Regions from separate parts of the Homo sapiens genome. Here region 1 is linked to region 2. A link means that fine-mapping ties the variant in region 2 to the expression of a gene that starts in the linked region. Tissue or cell type: tibial artery. Region 2 holds a variant in brackets; the other region holds the start of a gene. All regions are shown on one strand. Distances are from middle to middle. Region 1 holds the start of LINC02188 (long intergenic non-protein coding RNA 2188). Region 2 has its middle 34 kb from the start of LINC02189.

Region 1 (10,573 bases), 33 kb before region 2:
GGATCTTTGTATGCAACAGGCACCGCCTCGTTTCTTTTCATAAGTAGCCTTGGCCACCTCATTATTAAATGGGAGAGGATAAGATAGTGGTACCCATGTTGTGGGGCTGCATGGAGGCTGAGTGAGCATAGTGAGAATTTGGACATGAAATGCTGAGCACGGTGTTGGGCACATGCTGCTGTCCATCACCTGTTCACACTCATCATCTTCACTATCACTTAGCACCCCCAGCACACACACCCCTACCTACAAGCCCTGTTGTAATCCCTGCTTTCAGATGAGGAAACTGAGGCTCAGGGTGGCACAGCTTTTCAGCAGATGGAACAGAGCCTTAGCCCTCCAGGCAGTCTGACGTTACACCCAGAACCTTAATCTCTGCCTTAGTCCAGCGTGATGGGGCTGAGGGTGCTGTGCTGAGACTACAGAGCCCCAGGTTCAAGTTCCAGCCTTAGACAGCCTTGAGCAACTCACCTTACCCACCACCCCATGCCTCAGTTTCCTCGTGCATAAAATTGGGAGCTCTTTTAGGCAATGTTAAGACTTCTCCTAGCTCTAACAATACGCAAGCCCAAAGAGGGCTGTGCACATTATGGCCTTTGTTTTCCAGATTCGAATGTGCCCCCCAGATCTCCACGCCGTGCAATTTCTCGGACAAACCAACTCACGTCTTCTTATTGGTCCCATGCACCCGTGGGATCAGCAGATGTAACATTCTGACATCACACTTAGAAAACTTCCCCCATCTGGATTTCTGCAACCCACAGGGAGTCATTTGCCAAACATATGTTTTACAAAACATGGGCCCACTGCACTCTGACTGGTTGTGGAGTCGATACAACCCACCTTTTCCCCAAGCACATGACTCTGGCCCATGCATGCTGTCTGGCTGGGGAGAGAGATGCAAGACTACTCATGTCAGGAGCGCAGGGTGGCAGGAAACGTGCAAGGTCACACATTGCTAAAAATGTAGGCGAGTAACGTGGTGGTAACAGACACACAACGGGGGTCAGTGTACAGTGGAGAAGAATTCTAGTGTCAGGCCAACTATTGCTGTCAGGAAGAGCATTGAGAAGCGTTTCCACATATCACCGCTCACTTTTCCAGATGACATTCAAGAGAGGAAGAGGCAGCGGACATCACTGGCCAGTGAAGTTAGGAGGCTTCGGAGGCTCCAGAGTCATGACAGATGTTTTGAACCTTGTAGCCAAACCCCTCCACGCAGAAGTTAAAATGCCCACTTTCTCTGGAGCACAACTTTTTAAAAAATTGTTTTTTTTTTATATTGTAGTAAAATATACGTAACAAAATTTACCACAATAACCACTTTCAAGCGTGTAGTTCTGTGGTGTTGACTGTATTCATACTATTGTACAACCATCACCACCATCCACCTCCAGAACTTTTTCATCTTCCTAAGCTGAAACGCTGTCCCCACTAAATTATAACTCCCCATCTCCACCCCATAAGTCCCTGGCAATCACCCTTCTACTATCTTTTTCTTTTTGTTTTTCTTTTTTTTTTTTTTTTTTTTTTGAGATGAAGTTTTACTCTTGTTGCCCAGGCTGGAGTGCAATGGCACGATCTTGGCTCACTGCAACCTCTGCCTCCTGGGTTCAAACAGTTCTCCTGTCTCAGCCTCCTGAGTAACTGGGATGACTGGCGCATGCCACCACGCCCAGCTAATTTTTGTATTTTTAATAGAGACGAGGTTTCATCATGTTGGCCTGGCTGGTCTCAAACTTCTGACCACAGGAGATCCACCTGCCTCGGCCTCCCAAAGGGCTGGGATTACAGGCGTGAGCCGCTGCGTCCGGTGCCTTCTACTTTCCGTCTCTATGATTCTGCCTACTCTAGGTGCTTTATCAAAGTGGAATCACACAGTGTTTGTCTTTGGTGACTGTCTCTTTTGCAGAATGTCCCCAAGCTTCATCCATGTTGTAGCAGGTGCCCACCCTTCATTCCTTGTTAAAGCTGAATAATCCTCCATTACTTGGATGCACCATTTTCTTTCTTCATTCATTCACTGATGGACACGTGGGTTGCTTCCACCTTTTGGCTATTGTCAATAATGCTGCAGCGATTCCCAGGCTGGCTGAGTAATTGGTAGTCTACAAAGCTGCTTGGCACAGCGTCCCCAATCTATAGAGAGTAGTTGTGGGTTCAAAGAAAACCCACAAGACTTTAGAGCCAAAATACATCTGGTTTCCAATGTTTGACTGGCCAGCTGCAACTTTAGGCAAATTTAATCCTCCTGAGCCTCACGCTGCTCATCACCAAACTGGGAATTACAGTAGACAGCACTGGTCGCTGTCCCAGCATCCACACTACCTCCTACATCCTAAGCGAATTCTGATTTCTTTTTTCAACTTTCTTCCACGCCCAGGTGATCTCAAGGGGCTGAGACATTCATAGTTCCAGGGATGGGGCAAGTCCCGCCCCCTTGGCAATGATTGGTTCAGACACCCAGGCTTCAGCTAATCGGTTTCTAGCAGTGCCTTAGCAACTGTTGCTAGTGTTAAGCCCTTGATCTGAGTGGCCCAATCAGGTAGAGGATGGGCTTTTATTCCAAGTTGGAGAAATGACGCTCCTCGGAGCTAGGAAATGAACAAGAGTTTCTGCAGCTGCTGATGCTGCCACCATCCCGCAACAACGAGGGAAAGAGCATGAGAACGAAGCCCAGGCACAGAAGAAAGGCAGCCATAAAAGTGTCAGAAAAACGGAGCCGGAGCCTGATTATCCTCCTCATCTTGGTACACACTCACACTCACACACTCCCTATGTCTGCGGACTGACAGTCAGAATATTCAAGCAAAACAGATCTCCTTAAATGGCAGTGACCTTACCTGAAATTTAACAGGCCTGAATTTACCGGTCTAAGGTCAACCAGGAAGGCTGTGTGCCTTCAAGCCCACCACTCAAAGACGCCAACCAATTCACCTGTCTCCTGTATGATTCTGGGTTCACACACATGGGTGCACAGACTCCCCCGAACACACACACACACACACACACACACACACGCACCTGCACGCATGCACACACACAATTAGGTTCAGAAATTAAACCTCAAAGTAATAGTAGGCCTCAATTATCCTACATAGCTGTGAAACAGATAGCCTGTTAGCTAGTCACTGGAGTACTGCTTGAAATAGAGATTTATTGCACAAAAAGCAGCACATACAAAAGTTTCTATGATCAGTATTACGGCTGATTGTGAAATAAGACATCATTGGAAGTGCACCAAAAATGAATAATGCAGGGACTGAACAGAGAAGCTGAGTGAAGAGAAGCCAGATAAAGAAGGAACACATATTTTTTCAGCCCACAGCTTCACCCATTTTCAGCGAAGCAAGGATTTCCCTTAGGGTGAAGGGAGAATCCTAGGTCTTTCTATTCCATTTCCGGGCATGACCAGACACCAAAATCATGACAGAGTAAGCTTGAAAAGAAAGACTTCGTGAAGACTGTTGGTCAAGACACAACCGGGGAACAGAAACATCTCGGCATGTACAGGAGAAGGAGTTTAATCCAGGAAGGAGATTGTGGCAGGTGGAGGGTCAGAAAAGCCACTGCAGTGTCAAACCACACACAGCGAATTATTCATTCAGATCTCATGACAAGAAAACTTGGTGTCTTTGTCTACCTGGGCTGCTGTAACAAAATATCATCCACTGGGCAGCCCATGCACAACAGAGATTTATCTCTGACGGTTCTGGAGGCTGGGGTGTCCAAGATCAAGGCCCTGGCCACTTCAGTGTCTGGTGAAGGTCACTTCCTGACTCATAGATGGCACCTTCTCGAGAGTCCATATATGCTGGAAGGGGCAAGGGGCCTCTCTGGGGCGTTTTTTATTATTTTATTTTTATTTATTTAATTTTTTGAGATGGGGTTTCAGTCTTATTGCCCTGGTTGGAGTGCAATGGCATGGTCTCCACTCACTGCAATCTCTGCCTCCCGGGTTCAAGCGATTTTCCTGCCTCCGCCTCCCAAGTAGCTGGGATTACAGGCGCCCGCCACCATGCCCGGCTCATTTCTGGATTTTTAGTAGAGATGGGGTTTCATCATGTTGGTCAGACTGGTCTAAAACTCCTGACCTCAGGTGATCCGCCCACATTGGCTTCCCAAAGTGCTGGGATTACAGGTGTGAGCCACCGTGCCCGGGCTTGGGGCTCTTTCATAAGGGCACTATTCCCATGCATGAGGGTTCTACCTCACAAACCACTCACCTCCCGAAGACCTCACCTTTTGATAGCATCACATTGTAGGTGAGAATTTCAATATTCAAATTTGAGGGAGACACACACATTTGGACCATAGCACACAGTTGGGTCATAAAGCCAGGGTTCCGAGGCAAGTCTGAGGTCATCAGCCAAGGGTGTCTGCATCGGACAACACTCAACTCGGGATTGGCACCCAGCCAGTGCCCTACACTATACAAGATGCCACTGTAGGGACAGGGATGACCTCTAGCAAGGTGACCCTCAGTGGGCCAGAGGGGGCTTCTGAAGAGAATTTCTCTAGCTTCTTGGTGTTTCCTGCCTGCTACTTTCAAACAAGGGTCCCATTTTTAATGTTTTCCCAGTAATACCTTATGAATGTTATTGCAAAGGTAAAGGAAATTATATTTTTGCTCTTATTGTTGTTCACTCTACTCCCATTTAGCAATTAACATTGAAAGGTAAGAAAACCAAGAGAAAGAGAGAGATTGCAATGTGGATATAGACGCAGATGTATAGAAATATATACATAGTAGAAATAAAAAAGGGTTGGCTATGGAGAAGGATACACAGATAGAGATAGCAAGACAGTTGGATAGACAGACAGGTTTTTTTTTTTTCTTAATAATAGGAACCAGAGGATGATCAGGAGGGTGAGGAAAAGAAAAAGATGAAAGCCCTGTCTAAGATGCCCACAAGTTCTCTAGTTTGCATTTGTTCCCTTGGTGAGCAGAAGGGTGCAAGTCCTCTCTTACTGTGATGTGAGGAACCTATATCATCCCAGGGCACAAGAGGGTGAAGTTGGCCATCTGTGCCCTTCTCTGCCTTGTACCCTAGGCACGCCCCTCCTGTAGATCCCAGTTTCTCTTTCTGCCAAAAAGGGGGCAGACCTGGTGAGTAGCTAAAGTTCCTTCCGGCCTGAAGGCCCCTCAAAGGTTTTCTCCTGTGCCTTCCCCACAGCCCGGGTCTGCACTCTACTGGGATTTGCTGGGCTAGATTCTCAGAGGAGCTCAACATTGATTGAGTTCCTCGCTCCACGTTAAATCTTTGGAAAATTAACTAAAGATCTCCTAGTAAGATGCTTGTAACTTACTACATAAGGTGAAATAGTGACTTTACAGTACAAAAACTATAACCCAAGTATTACCACCAGCAGCGGGCTAAATCAACACCACAGGCCCCGTGATCAATATATGTGATGAGGACATTACATCCTGGTGTTGTTGCCCCAAGTCTTGACGTGAATCTGACCACAAGGACAATTCGGACAACCTGAAATGGTGACGCATTCTACAAAATAAACATCAATGTCATGAAAGACAAAGACTCAAGATTTTCTGCTTAATGGAGACTAAAGAGATGCGACAACAGAATGCCAGGCATGATCTTGGATATTCTTTTGGCTCAAACAGTCTTAGGACAATTGAAAAAACGTGAATGAGGTCTGTAGCTAATAGAATTGTGTCAATGCCACATCCTTGGTTTTGTTAATTGCATTGTGGTTACAGAAGAGAATCCCTTTGTTTTCAGGAAATGCACACAGCAGTATTTAATAGTAAAGGCACATCTTGTCTGCAACTTCCTCTCTGTGTGTGTGTGTGTGTGTGTGTGAGAGAGAGAGAGAGAGAGAGATGCAACAAATATGGTAAATATTAATTTTGGGGACTCTGGGTGAAGGGTATCTTGAGATTTTTGTGCTCCTCTTCTGCACATCTGAAATCATGTCAAAAAATAAAAAAGGTGTGCACTCTGCAAGGGATACCCAGATACCCATGCAGAAGAGAGAACTGATTCAAGAGATGAACCCAGGTGGGAGCCACGATGATGCCCACTGGGGAATGAGCCTGTAAATCCAGGAGAGGCTGCACCTGCAGCCCATTCCTCCAGGGTGGTTCTCCTAGACCTGCTTCAAGTGTCATGGTTTAAATTCTCAGGCACCCCTTGGGCCATACTGACATTTCTATTGGCTTTGGGCTAGGAGGAGCTAATATGCCTTGCACATGATGATAGCTTGGAGAATGTAAAAATGCTGAGCTGTTATCACACCTAATGACATGATACCTGCAAAGACGTAGTGTGTGCATGGAACAGCGTAATGGAGTCCTACAGCCTTAAGCCAGGATTTCATGTGTGATACACAGTAGTCATGGCTGAAATCTTTCTCCAGTGTGGCTGCTCCCTCCTCATTGAACACAAAGCAAGTTATACAATTCAGTTTTAGCAAATGTCTTGTGAGATGCGCTAGCACAATCTTAAAGATCATGTGTGGGTAAAAAGAACAACCTCCACCCATACCAAGCATTTTCAGTGCCAGGCCCTACCTGAAACACAACCGTGATCTCCATTTGAGCCAGGAAAACCCGAACCATGGGGAGCCGCAGAGCCCGCCCCCCACCCAGTGACTCTCCGGTGTGTCAGTGCCAGGGTCTGAAGGTACTGAGGCTTTGCAGGCATCATCTCAAGCCAGCAGGGTCTGAAGCTACTGAGGATCTGCCAGCAACATCTCAAGACGGCATGGTAGCTCCTTCCCAGCACGCCACGCTGCCCTGCACCCACTGCTAGCTTCTGTCTATACTGCACTTGGCACTGAGAGCAATCCGATCAGAGGCAGCATGCGATTGCTTTGTTCCATTTTCCCAAGGCCCACTCACAGGGCCTGTAGGTACCTGCACGGTCCAGGTCCAGGTCCGTCATTGTTCAATCGAGCCACCATGAATTGGAACAACTGCATCTTTCAATCGCGTCCTCCAATTTGCCCAGAGCCATCCGAGCACAGATTCAGAACTGGATCTTTGCCTCTCTCAACAAAGTACACTAGGGGACTGAAGCATCCAACTCAAGTGTAGTGTTTTAAATAAGGAAGAAGAACTTAAATTCACCCACTGACCCATTTCCACAATCGTCAAAGTCACATGGCTTTATCGGTATTGTCATTTCTGTGTGAAACTTAGCTCTTACATGCTTAAAAAATAAGAATAATTGTTCAGATATGCTTGGGAACCAAAGAAAGAACAGAACTACTGTTTTCCCCACATTGTCAAACTCAAACAAACACCTGTGACAGATGAGCACCGCCTACTGAGGTCGCAGTTCACCTTTCTGCACAAGAGCTGGTGGCTTTGTTCTCTGTCTGGAAGGACTTTCTGTCTCCCTGTGCTGCGTGTCCTCTGGCCTCTTGGGCCCATCCTTCGACGCCAAACTCAAGGGACATATTCAGCCTTCATCTTTGGAGGGATGCCCAGGGACAGATGTGTCCACGGGACCCCCAGCACACAGACTGACCTTTCGGGGCTTACCCTTCAAAGGTGTCGTGTCATTTCCCTGTGCCCTGACCTCCACGCTGAGTTCCCTCTTTCCTTACTGGCCGTGGCATTGCATGGGTATAAGTGATTGTATGTAAGACAGTTATAGGATTTGTTTTCTGATAATCCCTGAGTTTTATATTTCTGCCAAAAGTTATAAGTGAGCAATCTTATATATACATCTGCCAGCTCAAATGGACACAATGTAGGCACAGGCATCTTGTGTTGAGAGGCATAATGGGGCCATCCCCGGGGTCTGCAGGGAAGCAGGCAGCAATTGATGAGGGGCATTCGTCCTGGGACGAAGGAAGGCGAGAAGCAGCCAGTATTTCCTGTTCTTGATACAATGTTACCCTGCCGCAAGGGTGGAAAATCCCACGTTTAAACCTGAAACTGATTGTTCCTGGCCAGCAGCCACTCCCACATCCCCAAACCAGGGGGGTGACTTACAGCAGTGCAGTGACCTGCCTGAATCACTCGAGCTCTTGCTGAAACGCAGGTTCTGAACCAGGGCCTCCAGGGCGGGGCCTGAGACTCTCCATTTATAACCAGCTCCCGGGTGATGTCTGAGGACCACGCCTTGGGTAGTGAGGACCTAGAGTGAGTGAATGAAGAGAACTTACACAACAGCCCAGCACATTCTAATGAGAAAGGTGACACCACCTACCCCTCTATCATTCACGAGCTTAGGACAGCTGGGTACCTCGTGGCCATCCTCAGTCAGCCCCACCTCTCAGGCCAGGGCCTGCTGTCTTTGATGAAACCCCTCTGTCCCTCCCACGCCTTTGCGCCTGTTATTCTCCAGCCCACCCTAAGTCCCCCATGAGGTGCTGGATGTCTCAGGCTTGGATCTCCTCATCACTGCCTCTCTTCTTCCTCAGTACCCTGGGAGCTGCCCACGTGGGCTCTCAGTGGCCCCTGCTCTCTGGCTTCTGGCAGGGGATCGCCCAGGCAAGGCAGGCGGCGACATCCCCCTCCTCAAATGGCACTTGTGTCTCCCGGAGAACTGTGAAGTGCAGGAGGCAGGGGGCCTGGGGAAGGGCCAGTGCCTGGTGAAGGAGGGCCGCTGCTATTATTTCTTAGAACTTTTTGTTACTTTTATTAAATCTGGAGGTTCCAGCTCAGTTCCCTCCTCCATGAAGCCCTCCTGGCTTAGCTCGACCTCCCTTAGTATCTTTCTCCTTTGAATGCACTCAGGGAATAACTTAGGCCCTTATTTTGAGCCATCTTCCTTCTTTTTGCTTAGTTGCCTCCAAGGCTCAGTATGGTCCCCTCGACACGACAAGAAGCTTCGATTCACTCACAGTAAACTTTTGCCAATGAGGAAAACCACAAAACACACCTGAAACTCAAATAACTCAAAAATGGTTTGAAAACAGTCTGTTTCTCTACGTCTCTCCCAGTGTTGGTAATACGTGTTTGGGGAAAGTGTCTAAAAATAATGAAATACTTTTTAAAATCTACTTTTAAAAGAAGCTTTATCGAGATATAACTCAAGTACCACACAATTCACCCATTTAAAGTGGACAATTCAGTGGGTTTTAGTATATTCACAGAACTGGACAACCCTCAACACAGTCCATTTTGGAACATTTTTATCAATTCAGAAAGAATCTGTGTACCTGTTAACAGTCACCCTTCCTCATCCTGCTGTTTTGAGCCTGTATTTAAAACACGAGGCAGGAAAAGACCATTTTACCGATGTAAAGCCCAGGACATATTTTTTGTTTACATTGTCTTTGAGGCTTATCCCTTTTTAAAAATTCACTGGCTAAGTTTCAGGAGAATCAAATCAATGGCATGAAAACCTACCTGTTTTGCAGAACATCCCAGGTCACCTGCCTCCTTGCACACCTGAGGGTTGAAGGAGGCCATGGCACCGTGGCATCCGCCACCCCATCTGGCTTTCCCACGCCTCTGGCCTCACCCCTGTCGGAGGTGAGAGCTGGTTCCTGCCAGTCTAGAAGGAGCTTTAAGCTCTGCCTCCTATGTTGTAACAGAGCCCGGGAAGGAAGCTTCCACTTGTGAGCCAACTGCAGGCTTGACGGACTCAAAAGGGTGGTGTGGAAACAAAGAAAACACTGTATGTTGAAGATGGTCAAGACAATCACAATGCTGCCATTTATTGAATATTTGCAGAGTGTCTGGCATACTGCTAAGAACATTACATGCATATCTGGTTTAATCCTCACGACGACCTTCGGAGGTGGATCTTATTAGTTTGCCTGAGTTTACTGCTAAGGAAGCTTAAAGGAAGAGCTCTAGTAACTGCCTGGAGGGTCTTCCCTGATCTTCCCATCAGTCTAATGATCTGTTTGGATAGAAGGAGGGATCAGTCTGAACTGGATGGCCTTCTGAAGTCTTCAAAGCTCTCAAATCTGAGAATTCTGAATTCTACAAAATCTGAATCATAGGACGCCCTTTGAATAAAAGCGCTGGATCCTTTTAACCCCAAAAAGAAGGGAGATGTGCATGTGGGGGGTGTGGAGAGAGCCTATTTTTAATGTAAGTCAGGAATGTCTGCTATGTGTGGATGACATGAGGGCTCTCAACCTCTGGGAGCCTGTCCCCAGGTCAGCCTTGGTGAGTCTGGCCCCAGCTATGGGTGCCTACCTGGGTTTTCACCTGTTCTGAGGTTTACTGTCCCCCACCTGCAAGCATGAGGCCCAGAAGCTGCCATCAGCCTTTGGTCTCTGGTACAGGCCCTTAGCTGTGAACTCACATTATTAATGTTAAAGACATTGATGTGACTAGCAGTGGTGTCCCATGTGACCATTCAAGATTCCCAGTGGCTGGAGACAGGACTCCAGATGTGGCAAGGGTGACAGGAACCCCTTTCTTCACTTTTAAATGGAGTGAGCCAATAGCAGAGGCATGGAGTCAACCTAGGTGCCCATCAGTGGCGGACTGGATGAGGAAAAGTGGTCCATACATGCCATGGAATACTACATAGCCATGAAAAATAATGAAATCATGTCATTTGCACATCACGGATGCAGCTGGAGGCCATTATACTGAGCAAATTGACACAGGAACGGGATACCAAATACTCCA
Region 2 (10,573 bases):
GTTAATGAGTGCTCAGAACACAGTCAGAGTATGTCCATTAAAGGATTAAAAATAAAGGGAAGTGGAAAAGGAACAGCTCAAACAGGAGAAAAAGCACTCTTCTGGGGGTCAAAACTTCTCCCAAATTTCTCTTTGGCTCTAGTTCTACCACTCAGAGCAAGTCACCCAGTCTCAGCCGGGCTTCCCCTTCCCATCTGAAAATGAACGGTGGGTGGGATAGATTGTTCAATGCCCTCAGCACAAAACCCCTTGTTCATGAAAACCAGCTCATCTTCTGTATTGAATTGAATGAGGAAATAAGAATTTTCCAAGGCAAGGGAGCTTGCAAGAGGACTGTGAAGTGTCCTAAGCTTTCTCAGGTCTCTAAGCAGAGGAAGGGCGCTGTTTTGTAACCAGCTGACTCCAAAATACAAATGAGCCACTGAGAAAACCCTGAAGAATCTGATGTGGGGGAAGATTTCAAATCCGACCTACTCCATTAACCCCTGTGGTCCTCTCATGCACCCCGCCTGGAAGCCCATCAAAGTGTCAGCTCAGCCTGGAGTCCCCGGTTAAGGAGCGAGGCATTTACACCATTTGCTAGGAGTGCAGGAAATACAGGAGTGACATTTCCATCAGTTTTCTTCCCCAAGCGAGAAAAGAGCGGCAGGGGCGAGAAAGAAAGAAAGCAACCGCGTCCAAGGCTTGGCTGCATCCCAATGCCTTTGACACCTAGGCTTTTATTGGAACTGCTACTTCCAAAATAAAGAAACTAGTGACTTCAGGGTATATTTTGCCTCCGTTTTTGAGGATGTCTTGGGCCTTTCATCTCCTCTGAAGGCGTGTCCCCTAATTATGCCCCTTTCATCCTTGTGTTGCTCAAGCAGAACATGCCAGTCTGCTCTACAGCCATTGATTATGACTGAGGGCTTTCCACGTTCCAGCTGCTGCCGAGAGCCTGGGTATTTGTGAATACCTGAATAAACTCCTTTAATCCAAAAACAAACTCCTCCTGAAAGAAACTGCCTGAAAAGGCCTTTCATAGAGTGTTTCCCAACTCACTGGTTCATGGTTTCTTTGGATTTCACTGTGCTTCCTGAACTAATGGTCTCTGAATGCATTCCCAACTGTGGCTTCCTGGTCTACCGAGGTCCCCAGCACGAGGTCCCTGGCATTAAAGGAGAAGAAGGAAAAAAGTAACACAGCAGATGCTTATAGGAGTTGCCAGGACTGGATGGGTTGAAACTGAAAGGAAATACATGTGGGTGAGAGTGTTACGTTGTTTCGACAATTTTTATAAGAAATGCTTCCCCAGGTAGTGCTTTAAAAACAAAGTTACAATCACACAGGACACACATGTGGGGTGTAGCTTCTGCTAGATGGAAAGCAGATTGCTTGAATTAGCACTGGAAGACCTTAACTACAGAACCTGATGACTCTCTTCTAATTGACAGATTTGCTTTAAGATTCACAACTTGAATTGGAAAAAACATCTGTGTTATTGAGATTACAGTGGGAGCACTAAGAAAGCCCAGAATTGACTTGGGAACTTCCCAATGGCCAGCTGATATGTTCAGATTGGAGCCCTGGACTTGGAGTTGCCAGATTCTAGGGTGAGAAATGGCATGTTCACGTCCTAGCCTTGTAAACCTCAGCTCATTACTTCCCTGCTTTGCCTCTGTATCCTGATCTCCAAAATGAAGGGGCTAGGTGAGACCAGGGGAACTTTCCTCCAACAAATCGAATTCCTCTCACCTGAGCAAGTAGGGAGGGAGGGAGGGAGGCTACCAGAACCCCCACCATGAAGATTCTCACCCTGCCCTCTCCCTGCCTTCCAGGGATCCCTGGCATGGTCTAGTTTGGTTACTATTGCTACGTAACCAATTACCCCAGAAATCAGTGCTATCAAACGATTGCCCTTTTACTTTGTTTACGATTTGGTGGGCTGGGATTTAGAGAGGGATTGACTGGGCAATCATCACTTGGAGTCTCTCAAGAGAGTGCAGCCAGGTGTTGGCTTGGACTGCAGGCAGCTGGAGGCTTGACAGGCCGCATGTGTGTCCAAGGTGTCTTGCTCACGTGGCTGGTGTTGATGCAGGGGCTGTCAGCCAATGCATCCACATGTGGCCTCTCCAGCATGGCGGTCTCAGGGTTGTCAGATTTCTTACTTGGTGGCTGGCTTCCTCCAGAGCAAGAGTTTCCAGAGAACCAGGTGGAAGACATGTGGCCCATGTGACCTAGTCACAGGAGTCACACAGCCTTACTTTCACCACATTCTATCGATGGTCAAAGGGCCACCAAATTCAACCACAGGGAACACAGATCTCCCTCTCAGTAACAGGTGAGGCAAGACCATGTTGTGGGAGAGCCTACAGGCATCAGGGTATGATTGCGGACATCTTTGCAAATCATAGTCCACCTCAGGTTCCAAGAAACACAGTTGGAAAACAACGAGGTTAGACGGTCTCTAACGTCTCTTTCTGTTAGAAAAGCAAAAAACTCTAAAAGGGCAACATTTACTTGTCCAGACTCTTTCTTTTTTAAAGAGCTTTACTCCTTTGGGAGGCCGAGGTGGGCGGATCACGAGGTCAGGAGATTGAGACCATCCTGGCTAACACAGTGAAACCCTGTGTCTACTAAAAATACAAAAAATTAGCCTGGCGCAGTGGCGGGCGCCTGTAGTCCCAGCTACTAGGGAGGCTGAGGCAGGAGAATGGCATGAATCCAGGAGGTGGAGCTTGCAGTGAGTCGAGATCGCGTCACTGCACTCCAGCCTGGGCAAGAGAGCGAGACTCCATCTTAAAATAAATAAATAAATAAATAAATAATAAATAAATAAATTAATTAAATAAATAAATAAATAAAAATAAAGAGCTTTACTGGAGTGTGCAGGCCTCCCTTGTTTTATTATGCATTTAAGTGCTTTACTGTCTGTGTTTCTTACAAACTGAGGGTTTGTGGAGACCTTGCATGGAGCAAGTCTATCAGCGCCATTTTCCCAACAGTACGTGCTTATGTCATGGCTCTGTCACATTTGAGTAATTCTCACAGTATTTCAAACCGTTTCATTATGATTACTTCTGTTATGGTGATCTGCGATCGGTGAGCTTCGTCACTATTGTAATTGTTCTGGGGCACCATGAACCATGCCCCTATAAGACAGTGAACTTAATCAATAAATGGCTTGTGTGTTCTAACTGTATCACTGGCTCTTCCCCCATCTCTCTCCCTATCCTTGGGCCTCTCTATTCACTGCAACATAATAATATTGAAATTAGGTCAAGGAATCATCCTACAGTGGCCTGTAAGTGTTTGAGTGAAAGGAAGAGTCACAGGTCTCACTTTACACCGAGAGCTGAAACGATTAAGCTTAGTGAGGAAGCCATGTCAGAAGCCAAGGTACGCTGAAACTAGGCCTCTTGCACCAAACAGTTGGTCAAGTTGTGCATGCAAAGTAAAAGCTTTTGAAGGAAATTAAAAGTGCTACTCCAGTGAACACATGAATGATAAAAAAGTGAAATAGCCTTACTGCTGATATGGTGAAAGGTTTACGGTCTGAATAAAAGATCAAACTAACTACAACATTGCCTTGAGCCAAAGCCTAATCTGGAGCAAGGCCCTAACTCTCTTCAATTCTGTGAAGGCTGGTGACGTTCAGTGTTTTTTCATGTGCTTATTTACCATCGGTGTAATCTCTTCAGTGAAATGTTTCGTCATGTCTTTTGCCTAATTGGATCGTTTGGTTTAACTGAGTCTTGACAGTTCTTTATATATTCTGGATACTAGTCCTTTTTCAGATATGTTGTTTGCAAATATTTTCTCTCACTCTGTGGATCTTCTTTTTATCCTTAGAAAAGTATCTTTCAAGAGCAAAAGTTTTTAATTCTGATGCAGTTGAATTTATCAATCTTTTTCTTTTGTGGATTGTGCTATTGGTGTTAAGTCTTAAGACCTTTTTGCCTAGGCCTATATTCCTAAGACATTTTTCCCGAAAGTTTCATAGTTTTGTATTTTACATTTAAGTTCATTATACATTTTGAATTGATTTTTGTATAAGATGTGAACCTTACATAGATGTTGATTTTATTGCCTATGTGCTATTCTCTGGCACTGTTTGTTGAAAAGTCTCTTTTTTTCTCCATTGAATTGCATCTTTGTTAAAAATCAGTTGGGCATATTGGTGTGGTTCTATTTCTGAGTCTCTATTCTGTTCCACTGACATATGTCTATCCTTCCACCATTATCACTGCCTTCTTGATTACTGTAGCTATGTAGTCACCCTTGACATTGGGGAGACTGATTCTTCTCACTTTATTCTTCTTTTTTTCAAAATTATTTGAACTTACCTAGTTTCTTTCCATTTTCAAATAAATTTTAGAATAACCCTGTCCATCTGTTAAAAAATTCTGCCGTTATTTTGATATTAATTGCATTAAACTTGTATATCAATTTGAAGAGAATTGACCTCTTTACTATGTTGAGTCTTTCAATCCCTGAATGCAGTATATCACTCCATTTATTAAGACCTTCTTTGATTTCCTTCATCAACATTGTATATTTTTCAGCATACAAGGTATGTGTTTTGTTACGTTTACTACATCGTTTGAGCAATTATAAGTGGAATTGTATTTTTAATTTTGGTGTTTATTATTCTGGCTAGAACCTATAGCACTACACTGAATAAGAGTAGGGAGAGTGGACATTCTTGCTGTGTTCTCAATCTTAGGGGGAAAACATTTAGTCTTCCACAACTAAGTATAATGTTATCTGTAGCTTTTTGTAGTTGCATTTTGTCAAGTCAGGAAGTTTCTCCCCTATTTCTATTTTTCTGAGCTTTTTTTAAAATCACAAACGGATGTTGAATTTTATCAATGCTGTTTTTTGCATTGATTAATGTGAATATGTGATTTTTCTTCTTTAACTTGTCAGTAGGGTGGATTATGTTCAATACTCATAATTTTTGAGTATTGAAACATGCCTGCATCCTTGGAATTAATCCTACTTGGTTATGGTGTATAATTCTTCTTATATATTACTGAATTCTGTTTGCCGATATATACTCAAGAATGTTTGCCTCTACATTCACGGGGAATATTAGACTAAAATTTTATTGCCTTTGTCTGGTTTCTGTATTAGTGTAATACTAGCTTCACAGAATGAACTGCAAA[G/C]TATCCCCATCTCATGTATTTCTCAGAAGAGACTGTATAAAATTGGTGTTAATTCTTGTTTAAACATTTGGTAGAATTCTCCAGTAAAGCCATATGAACAAGATTTCTTTTGTGGTAATTTAAAAATTATTAATTTAATTTTTAAAGTACTTATAGGACTATTGAAATTATCTATTTCATACTGGGTGAGTTGTGACTGTGTTTTTCAAAATGAGGGGGATGTCCTTCTATTCCTTGTTTTCTCAGACTTTTTTAAATTAGGAATGAATGTTGGGTTTTGTCAGATGCTTTTCCTGCCACTATTAGATTATCATGATTTTCTTTTTTCTCTCTTTTCTTTTTTCTTTTCTTTTCTTTTCTTTTCTTTCTTTCTTTTTTCTTTCATGGAGTGTCACTCTGTCGCCCAGGCTGGAGTGCAGTGGAACAATCTCGGTTCACTGCAACCTCCGCCTCCCTAGTTCAAGTGATTCTTCTGCTCAGCCTCCCAAGTAGCTGGGATTACAGGCATGTGCCACCACGCCCAGCTAATTTTTGTATTTTTAGTAGAGACAGGGTTTCACCATGTTGGCCAGGCTGGTCTCAAACTCCTGACCTCAAGTGATCCGCCTGCCTCGGCCTCCCAAAGTGCTGGGATTCAGGCATGAGCCACCGCACCCAGCCATGATTTTCTTGTTTAGTTTGTCACGATGATGAATTACATTGATTGATTTTCAAATAAACTAATCTTGCATTCTTGGGACTCACTTACATGTGATGCATTATCCTTTGTTGGGTTTGATTTCCTAAAATTTTATTTAGAATTGTTGCTTCTTTGTTCATGAGGAATATGGCCCTGTGGTTTTCTTGTCTTGTAATTGCTTTGTCTGACTTTGGTATTAGGATAATGCTGACCTCATTAAATGAATGAGAAAGTGCTCTCCCCTTTTTGGTTTTCTGGAAAAGTTTATGTAAACTTGGAATCGTTAGTCTCCTTAAAGCCTGGGTAGAATTCATCAGTGAAGCCATATGGACCTGGAGTGTTCTTGGTGAGAAGGTTTCTAACTACAAATATAGTTACTTTCATAGATAGGACTGTTCAGGTTATCCATTTTTTCATGAGTTAACTTAGTAGTTTGTGCCTTTCAAGCAATTTGTCCACTTTCCCCAAGTTGTCTGTAAGATCTGCAGTGATGTCAAGAATCTCGGGCCGGGCGCGGTGGCTCACGCCTGTAATCCCAGCACTTTGGGAGGCCGAGGCGGGCGGATCACGAGGTCAGGAGATCGAGACCATCCCGGCTAAAACGGTGAAACCCCGTCTCTACTAAAAATACAAAAAATTAGCCGGGCGTAGTGGCGGGCGCCTGTAGTCCCAGCTACTTGGGAGGCTGAGGCAGGAGAATGGCATGAACCCGGGAGGCGGAGCTTGCAGTGAGCCGAGATCCCGCCACTGCACTCCAGCCTGGGCGACAGAGCGAGACTCCGTCTCAAAAAAAAAAAAAAAAAAAAAAAAAGAATCTCATCCCTGGCCAGGCTTGGTGGCTCATGCCTGTAATCCCAGCACTTAGGGAGGCCGAGGCGGGCGGATCACAAGGTCAGGAGATCGAGACCATCCTGGCCAACATGGTGAAACCCTGTGTCTACTAAAAATACAAAAAATTAGCTGGGCATGGTGGCATGTGCCTTTAGTCCCAGCTACTTGGGAGGCTGAGGTCAGAGAATCGCTTGAACCTGGGAGGCGGAGGTTGCAGTGAGTCGAGATCACGCCACTGCACTCCACCCTGGCGATGGAGCGAGACTCCGTTAAAAAAAAAAAGAAAAGAAAAGAAAAAAAAACTCTTCCCTAATAATTGGTAATTTGTGCCTTTTCTCCCCTTTCCTGATCAACCTGGTTAGATGTTTATCCATTGTATTGATCTTCTCAAAGAAGCAACTTTTGGGTTCATTGTTTTTTTGTTTGTTTGTTTGTTTTTGTTTTGTTTTTTGAGAGGGAGTCTCACTCTGTTGCCTAGGCTGGAGTGCAATGGTGCGACCTTAGCTCACTGCAATCTCTGCTTCCCCGGTTCAAGCGATTCTCCTTCCCCAGCCTCCCAAGTAGCTGGAATTACAGGTGCCTGCCACCACGCCCGGCTATTTTGTTTGTTTGTTTGTTTTTGTATTTTTAGTAGAGACAGGCTTTCACCACGTTGGCCAGGCTGGTCTCAAACTCCTGACCTCAAGCGATCCGCCTGCCTCAGCCTCCCAAAGTGCTGGGATTACAGGAGTGAGCCACTACACCTGGCCCATTGGTTTTGTCTAGTGTGTTCTTGGTCAGAATCTCCCTGGAAACAAAGGACACTCGCTCTTCCTCCTTTCCTCTTGTCTAAGGAATTCTCTAAGAGAACTAGCTCACTTGAACCTTGTCGAAGGCTAACCTTCAAAATAAATCCACCTACCAACTCTTGTTTTTCTCAAAACTCTCAGCCAAGTACCACAGTTTCATGTCACAAATAATTTTTTCGAAGGTGCAGCATTCTGATCACATTCTGCAGAGAAAACGGATGTGTAGCTTTTGAAATATTCTGCCCCTTACAGAAAAGCTTCAGTGACAGAGATGTGATAATATGGGATGTCCATTTAGTGACAGGGATATTCTTGAGCCGGCTCTGGTTTTTGCTAACATGTGACCTGGAGCAAGTGACTAACAATCTCTAAGCCTCAGTTTTCTTCTCTCCAAAATGGGAATAATAATGGGGTTGTTGAAAGACCCACTTTGATGATGAATGCAAAACCTCAGTGCAGAATCTGGATGTGGTAAGCATTCCATTAGCAGTGGCTATTAAAATATGATAGCAAGGGTTATGGTCTGGGATTCCACTCCCTTTACTACTGGAAAGGAAGGATTTATGGTCTTCCTTTTCTTCTGTTGATGTTGGAGCCAACATTTATTGGTTGTAAATGTTAAAAATATAAACCTGTGGTGGAAATCCACGGACTGTGCATTTCATCCCATTATGGACTAGTCTATGGTCACACCTGGTCAAGCACCAAAGTTTATATTTCCAACACCCAAAATACACTTTAGTTATAACAAATATTTCTTCAGGAAGTTTGACAACTCTGCAGCCATGTCTCAGGAAGAATATGGATCCCGGGAATTTGCCCAAACTGGCCTTCCTGGGTGTGCAGTTGTATTCTCATAGCTGGGGAGGACCGGCCCAGGGGGCGGGGGTCCAGCAGGCCCAGTTGTGGTGAGGAGGCCTCTGAGGCCATGCCAGCTGGCCCGCTCCATGAAAGAGCATCTCACTGCCTCTCAGGGAAGCAGGTGGACGTGAAGCCCTGCTGGAGACGGGGAGAGTGGGGGGTGTGAGAAGCTGTGGGAAGGGGAGGGCTGATGAGCATGATATGGGGTGGGGCCGAGCTGGGGAGAATGTAAAACCCATAGCACCTTCTGTGACCTTCCTGCCATGGAGAGGGGCAGCCCCACCCCTACCCCACTGTACAGGGCGAGGCTCTGCAGCTGCATCCTGAGTGGGGCATGACAGACATGCTGCTGTGTGACCTCCCAGGTGGGCTAGGAGAGGCCAGGCCACCTCTGCCCAAGTTTCTTGGGACACTCACTCTGGGAGCCTCCCACTGCCACAATAGACATCCAATCACCCTATGGCATATATATATATATACACACACACACACACACACACACACACACACATATATACACACACACACACACATACACACACACATATATATACACATATATATACACACATATATATATACACACATATATATACATATAGAGAGAGAGAGAGAAAGAGAGAGAGAGAAACAGAGACACAGAGAGAGAAACAGAAATGGAGAGAGAGACAAAAAGAGATAGAGAAAGGGACAAGAAAGATGGACGGAGAGAGAAAAAAAGATGGAGAGAGAGAAAGAGAAATGGAGAGAGACACACAGAGAGATGTAGAGAGAGAGACAAACACAGAGAGAGAAAGAGGCAGACAGAGATGGAGAGAGAGACAAAGAAAGATAGAGAGAGGGACAAGAGAGAAATGGAGGGAGACACAGAAAGATGGAGAGAGAAACAGAGAGATGTGGAGGGAGAGACAGAAACACACAGAGAGAGAACGAGGCAGGGAGAGATGAAGAGAGAGACAGAGAGATGGAGAGAGAGACATAGAGAGAGGGACAAGAGAGAAATGGAGGGAGACACAGAAAGACGAAGAGAGAGGCAAAGAGAGATGTGGAGGGAGGAAGAGACAGGTAGGGAGAGGCAGATGGAGAGGTGGAGAGAGGGAGGAAGAGGGAGAGGTGGAGACAGGTGGGGAGAGGAAGATGGAGAGAGAACCTCCAGCAGCTGCAACACCGGCCATTTTGGGTCTTCCCAGCTGGGCTCCAGCCTTGTGAGGGAAGAACCCGAGAGATGCCCCAGCCTGGCACGTCTCACTGCCCTGGCCTGAGGACCCTGAGGGAGAAGTGCTGGCTGAGTCCAGTCAACCCCAAGACTTATGAACAAAATCAAAGAAGGCTGTGGATTTTCTTACCACGTGGGGGACAGAGGGAGCCAGTTGTCACCCAGTGAGAGGGAGCTGGAATGTAAGCCATGGCCTGGCCGGAGCTGCTTAATCTCTCTGGGTATCTGGGTCTCCATCAGTCAAATCGGAGTCATGGTGCAGATTTCTGAGAGCTGCCGTGAGAATCCAGTCAAATAGCAAGCGCAGGGTCCCCTGGGGTGCCCGCCTCCACGTGGGCACAGTGCACGGCCCCACCCGACAGTCTTCCTCCACAGCCTCCCAGCACACTCCACCTTTCCACAGACTTGGTTTCACTTCCTTTTGCTTATCACTGCATGGAACGGTCTTCCTCCCTCCCTCCCTCCTTCCTCTCTCCCTCCCTCCTTCCTTCCCTCTTTCCTCCCTCTCTCCTTCCTTCCTTCCTCCCTTCCCTCCCTCCCTCCCTTCCTTCCTTTCTTCTCTCCCTCCCTTGTTTCCCTCCTTCCTTCTTTTCCTTCTCCCCTCCTTCCTTCTTTTCTTCCTTCCCTCCTCCTCCCTCTCTTTGCTTCATTCATTGATTGTTCCCTCTCTCTCACCCTCCCACATAACACACTCAAGGAAAGGAACTTGGTCGTGTTCACTGTCCTCTGCCCTGCAGTGGGGCCTGGCACCCCACGGATGTGCTATACGTTTTTGTCAAATAGTTGAGCCATGGCTCTCCTGGGATGAGCATGGGTAGGAGGAAGGGACATACACGTGCCCAGGACCTGCTGGAGACTTGAGCAATGCAGCCTCTCCCTTTGGGAAGGCCCCTGCATGTGGTGGAGGGCAGGGATGTTTGGAAGGCACTGACCTGGCTCCCGGCTGCCAGGGCCAGCCTGGTGCTGGAACCCCTCATACCTGAAGAGGCACAGGAGAACCAAAGGCGGAGAGGCCTGCATCCTTCAGGGCGGCTGGATGGGTGTTCCGGGT

What was found. PIP is the estimated chance that this variant, and not a neighbour inherited with it, causes the effect.
Region 1: LINC02188 starts here. The variant in region 2 is the best candidate, but not a certain one, in a credible set for the expression of LINC02188 in tibial artery (GTEx, PIP 0.59).

The regions. Positions count from the first base shown.
Region 1 is chr16:86,715,801-86,726,373 of GRCh38, reverse strand. It overlaps LINC02188 (long intergenic non-protein coding RNA 2188), which reads right to left and starts at 4,283. Exons shown (of 3, transcript NR_135183.1): 1 at 4,243-4,283. It overlaps LINC02189 (long intergenic non-protein coding RNA 2189), which reads left to right and starts at 4,415. Exons shown (of 2, transcript NR_135181.1): 1 at 4,415-4,609; 2 at 5,371-5,690.
Region 2 is chr16:86,682,654-86,693,226 of GRCh38, reverse strand. No RefSeq gene overlaps it. Among named protein-coding and RNA genes, the nearest start is that of LINC02189, 34 kb to the left of the region's middle. The variant G/C (reference allele first, on the strand shown) is at 5,148.